Regions from separate parts of the Homo sapiens genome. Here region 2 is linked to region 1. Evidence: fine-mapped expression QTL. A gene starts in region 1. The other region holds a variant in brackets. All regions are shown on one strand. Distances are between the middles of the regions.

Region 1 (2,905 bases):
CAGCCTGCCCCAATTCAAAACTCTATCGGGATTTGAGAGAACAAAAAGGAAAATACTAAACAGCCAGACTGGCCCCTACTCTGAGGAAACAAGCAGGGAGAGAGGAAAAGCCCAAACAGCTGGCAGAACATAAAGGCAGCCCATGCAGGAAAGGCCCCACCAACTCCTGGGCACCTTCTGCCTGGAGACCATGTCCCCCAGGGACAAATCCCTGCCCTAGAGGAGTTTATGCTCCAGTGGGTCGTGGGAGGGGAGGTGCAATGACAACTATAACATTGACAACGGAAAATATTTATTTAGTGCTCGCTCTGTGCCAACCTTGCTCTAACTCACCTAATTTTCATGCCATGTGAAGTAGGTGGTATTATTTTCCTCATTCAGGAGGAAATGAAGGCACAGAGAGGTTAAGTGACTTACTCAAAGTCATACAGCTGGTAGATGGTAGAGCCAGGATTTGAACCCAGAAGCTGAAAACTTCTCCATCCCCATGCTGAGGACTCACACGCATTCCTCCTGCAAGAGATAAGGTTTACCCAGTTTACAGATCAGGGTGTGGAGGCCCAGAGAGGCACAGCTGCCCACCCTAGGTCTCGTGGCCAGCTGTCGGGGAGCGAGATCTAGGGTTAGCCTCCTGGCACTCCAACCTCCTCTCCCCACTGCCTCCTCTCCACATCCCCACTCCAGCAGCCCCAGGACAATCTGCCCCAGGACATGACAACTTCTCATTACTGTTACAAGCAACCAAGCCAGGGCCATCCTGGGGCATACCACTTTCCCCTGGCCCTGAGGGAGAAGAGAGGACAGGAAGCAACTCCCAGCTGGGTTGCTCACTTGCCCCACCTTGGAAGGATTTTCTGTGTCTCCAGAGGCAAAGTGGATTCGCTGGGCCCTCCCCAGCCTCACCCCTCTGCCTCCTCCCCTCCCTCTGCTCTCTCCGGGGGTCACTTGTACTCCAAGCGCTAACATGGAACCAGAGGGAGGAAGGTGCAGCGGGGAGAGAAGGGGATGGCAGCGGGACTGAAACTTGAGATCTTAGACTTGGGGGGCAGGGGATGGGGGTGGAGGGAAAGAGGGAGACCAAGACAGAGACAGGAAGGGAGAGTTAAGTTGCATTTGGTTTTCCAAAGCGGGCAGCATTGGAGCTTGGCGTTTGTGTGTACATGAATGTGTGTGCGTGTCAGCGTGCGTGTGAGTGTGTGCTCGTGAGTGTGTGCATGAGTGTGTGCGCGTGTCTGTGTGCTGTTTTCTTCCCTCCCCTCCAGCAGGGAAGCCAGGCCTCACTGGATAATCAGAGGGCTCAGAGGTGAGGCAGACAGAGCAAGGTTGGTGCACGCTTAGGGTAAGGGCGACGTGCCACCAAGACTGAGGAAGGAGGAAGGGAAGGAGTGAAGAATAGAGGTGAGAGGGTGTCGGGTGGGGCCGGAGGGAGGCGGTGAGAGGAAGCAAGCAGAGCAGCCGTGGTATTCAGAGCAAGTATAAATAGCTGCCTGGACAGAGCTCGGCCAGACAGAGGTTTGTAGCTGCAGCTGCAGGCAAGCCTGGCCACTGTTGGCTGCAGCAGGACATCCCAGGCACAGCCCCTAGGGCTCTGAGCAGACATCCCTCGCCATTGACACATCTTCAGATGCTCTCCCAGCTAGCCATGCTGCAGGGCAGCCTCCTCCTTGTGGTTGCCACCATGTCTGTGGCTCAACAGACAAGGCAGGAGGCGGATAGGGGCTGCGAGACACTTGTAGTCCAGCACGGCCACTGTAGCTACACCTTCTTGCTGCCCAAGTCTGAGCCCTGCCCTCCGGGGCCTGAGGTCTCCAGGGACTCCAACACCCTCCAGAGAGAATCACTGGCCAACCCACTGCACCTGGGGAAGTTGCCCACCCAGCAGGTGAAACAGCTGGAGCAGGCACTGCAGAACAACACGCAGTGGCTGAAGAAGGTACGGGGCATGGGAGGTTTGCAGGGGGCAGAGGGCGGCTTTGGGGTCTGTCACAATCAGCAGGTGGAGTGTCCATCCAAGAGGCCTTCCCTGAGCACAGAGGGCTGTCTCTGAGCTGCACAAAGAGGGGCAGGGGTGGGTCTGAGGCCACACAGCAAGATTGGGCAATGTCAGCTGGCAACCTGGCTCTTTAACTGCCGTCCCTTCATTCATCCAACAGAAATCCATTCAGCCCTGACCAAGGGCTGAACGGACCAAGCCTTCCTGGGTGCTGGGGATACGACAGTATAGTATGTCTCCCTCTGGACTAGTAGGGGAAAGAGGCAGTAAGAGATAATCTACTATGTCAGATGGTGAAGCAAAATGAAGAAGAAAGAGGGCAAGTGGCGGCCCTGGGTGGCTGCTTGAGGTCAGATCATTAGAGAGTACTTCTCAGAGGAGGTGACATTTGAACCCAGAGAACAAGGGAAATGATAGAGTGGGCCAGGCAGGTATTTGAGGGAACGTTCTGCAAAGGGAGCTGCATGTATTTTGACCGTGAGGAGGGAATGCATCCGCAGCGGTGTGTGCCTGGAGAACCATGGGGCGAAGGCCTGTGTAGCTGGAGCAGAGGAGAGGGAGCAAGGGTGCGGGGAGGTCTGAGAGGTGACAGCAGGGCAGGCCATGCAGCTGGGGGGGGGGCCACTGGAAGGACTTCAGCTTTTGTTCTGAGTGTCATGGGAGCCACTGCAAGGTTGTGAGCAGAGACAGACACCCGTGATTCGATTTCAACAGCATAGACTGTAGGAGGCAGGGTGGAAGGAAGAAGCCCAAAGAGGTGGCCGCTGCAGCCATCAGGTGCAAGGTACCGGAGGCCTGGAGCAGAACGGGGCTAGGAGGGGGTGTGGCCAGTAAGATTCTGGTGGGTTCTGGAGGTAGAGCCCATCAGCTCTGCTGGTGAATTGGATGCGGAGTGGGAGGAAGCAAGGAGCT
Region 2 (2,905 bases), 130 kb before region 1:
TGGAAATTTCAGGACAGTGGGGAAATGGAACAGATGCTTAGCACGGAGGGTGTCATGGAGGCAGAGTCTGCCTGAGTCAGCGTTCTGGGTATCTAGTGCTGCGTTACCCATCACCCCTGAACACACTGGCATCAAACAGTCATTCATTGCATTCACATATTGTGTGGGGCAGGAATCCAGAAGGGCACAGTGGGTAGATTTGTCTGTGCTCCACGGTGTCTGGGGCCTCAGATGGAAGACTTGATGGCCAGGGGCTGGACTGATTCCCTCATGGGTCTGGTGGTTGATGCTGACTGTTGGCTGGGACCCCAGCTGGGTAAATGTCGGCCAGAACATTTACCTCTGGCTTTTCCAGGGGGCCTGGGCTTCCTTACACCGTGGTCGTCTGGTTCCCAGGGTGAGTGTCTCAAGACAAAGAGCCAGAGAGAAGCTGTATTGTCTTTTCTTACCCACCCTTGGAAGTTACACAGTCACCTCTGCTGCGTTCTATTCATCAAGGCAGTCACAAAGTCCTGCCAGTCTCCAGGGGAGGAGAAATAAACTCTCCCTCTTGATGGAGAGTGGCAGGGTTCATGAGGAGCAGGGGGCTGTGGCCATTTTTGGAAATGAAATCTGTTATACTCAGCCACCTGACAGATGGAGAAACAGAAGCACCTCCCTCCTTCCCAGGGGAATAACTTGTCTAGGCTCAGACAAGGAATATCCTTGTCTAGGGTATGGAAAGAACCCAGAGGATCATGTCTCCCAACCTGAGGCACAGAATTGGAGCTGGCCACTCCCATTTTCTGCCCTGGGAGACCCACTCTCCTCTTCCAGTCCAGGGCTCTGCAAAGACCAACCCTTTCCACACTTGGCTGGTGGCAGCTCCAATTGTGGTTGAGGGTGGTTGAGTCCACTTGCAGCTATGTTTCGCCTGCTATGGGATGGGTAGGTGGTCCTTGGAGAGTTCATTCTTCCTCAGCTTCTGGGCTGCTGACCTTCCCCCTACCCCATCATCTCTATCAAGGAGAGAGTGCTAGGGCCCAGCCTATTCCCCATCCAGCCACACACTGGGGTCTGACAGCCAGGGATGATCTGATTGGCTGAGCCCCAGTCAGGGACCGATCTCCAGCTCCATGAGCTAGGGCAGGGGAGGGGCCAGTTTATCAGATAAGTAGAGTTATCAGATAGGCATAAGTGGGAGGTTCTCAGGGAAGGAAGATTAGAAGCTAGACAGA[G/T]ACCCCTAAAGTGTTTACTAATATATATTGGCTTCTGCATTAGATTTTGTTTAATGGCTTGTGGGTTATTTGGTTTCCTTCACCTTCCACAAACAACCCATCAGCAAGCCCTTGAAAATATATCCAAACCCACTCTGTTCACTCACTCTTATGTCCCCAGCCTCATCCAGGCTAGGATGACTGCACCAGCTCCTCTCTGGTGTGTCCATTCCTGCCTCCTTCCAACTCATCTCTGCACAGTGGCCAGAGGGATCTTTTCCAAGTATGAACCACATGGTATTTCTTCCCTGCTGATGGCGCCACCTCCACTGGGGCCACTTGAAATACAGACTCCTGACTGAGGCCACTGCCTGCATGGTTCACCTCATTTCCTCCTCTTGTGCCATTTATTCTGGCCACATTGGTATCCTTTCTGTGCCAACATGCCAAGCTTGGTTCTGCCTTGAGCCTTTTGCACATGCTATTTCCTCTGCCTGCAATGTCCTAACCAGTTCATCACATGTCTTTTGGGTCTCACCTGAAGTTTATTTCTCACTCATGCAATGGATGTGCCAGGGCAATGAGTGGCTCTCCTCCATGTGGTGATGCAGGAATCCAGGCTCTTCTAATCTTGTGGCTCCTCTATCTTGGGGTCTTGCCATCATTTGAATTCAGCCAGGGGAAAAGTAACAAGAACATGGGGGAAGCTCCCTCACTTCTCAAAAGCTAGGCCTGGATGTGGCACTCATCACTTCTGCTCCCATTCTATTGGTAAGAGCTAGTCACATGGCCACACCTGCATGCAAATAGGGCTGGGAAATGTTGACCCTGCCTGGACAGCCACTTGTGGGCTTTGCCCACATACTAGCAAAGGGGAGAATGGACTTGGTGGACAATTAATGACCTTGACCATGATCACCTTCTCAGAGAGGCCCTTCCCAACCATCTCATCCAAAGAACGTCCCTTCCATCCTTGTACATCTCATACCACTCCTCAATTTTCTTCATATCACATTTTATCTACCTACTTATTTGTCTGTCTCTATCACTGTCTAGAAAGTAAGCTCTCTGAAAGCAGAAACCTTGTTTGGCTAGTTAATGCCATATTCCTGGCACCTAGACCAGTGCTTGGCCCACAGTATAACAGATGTTTAACAAATGCTTGTTCAATCCGTGACAGGACAGGCATAACTTCCATTTTACTCATGGGGATACAGAGGAGACCAGTGGCTCCATGAACAGAAAATGCTTTGCTCAAGGGCCTGGCATATAGCAGGAGCCCCATTCATGCCCATTCCTTTCCCTCCCCATTGTTGATGCTGAGGCTGTTTCAGGGAAAGGCTGGGCTATGGTCTGTGAGCCGGCCTGAGGTTTGAGTCTGGCTCTGTCCCGACTTCTGTGTGTCCCTCCTGTCTCCTGTATGGGCCTCAGTTTCCCAGCCTGCAAGAAGACAGCAGAGCAGATTGGGCCAGGCAAACTTTCACATTCCTTGTGGCCTGAGAGTAGACGACCACCCCAGAGACATCTGTACCTTCTTTTTCCAACAGCTGACCTTTGGGAGAAAGTTCTTCTCCCCTTTTTGCTCCCCGTCTGTGGGCTTAATAAGGCTTAATAAGGGGCCTGGATGGGCCCAGCCCCTCAGTGCCCACCAGATCATACTTCCACCCAAGGGCAGGGTTGGGGGAGTGTGGCTAATGACAGGGTCCTAG

Which allele goes with the higher level. Positions count from the first base shown, and alleles are read on the strand shown. Sizes are in standard deviations (SD) of each study's normalised expression.
For the expression in subcutaneous fat of the gene that starts at base 1,505 in region 1, allele G in region 2 goes with a lower level than allele T (moderate effect, 0.61 SD a copy in FUSION).

The links. PIP is the estimated chance that this variant, and not a neighbour inherited with it, causes the effect.
Region 2: its variant is fine-mapped to the expression of ANGPT4 in subcutaneous fat (FUSION, PIP 0.95).

What each region holds. Positions count from the first base shown.
Region 1 is chr20:914,934-917,838 of GRCh38, reverse strand. It overlaps ANGPT4 (angiopoietin 4), which reads left to right and starts at 1,505. Exons shown (of 9, transcript NM_015985.4): 1 at 1,505-1,933. The coding sequence starts at 1,625. LOC105372492 (a long non-coding RNA gene) reads right to left here. Exons shown (of 3, transcript XR_937185.3): 2 at 418-513.
Region 2 is chr20:1,046,379-1,049,283 of GRCh38, reverse strand. No RefSeq gene overlaps it. Among named protein-coding and RNA genes, the nearest start is that of RSPO4, 46 kb to the right of the region's middle. The variant G/T (reference allele first, on the strand shown) is at 1,218.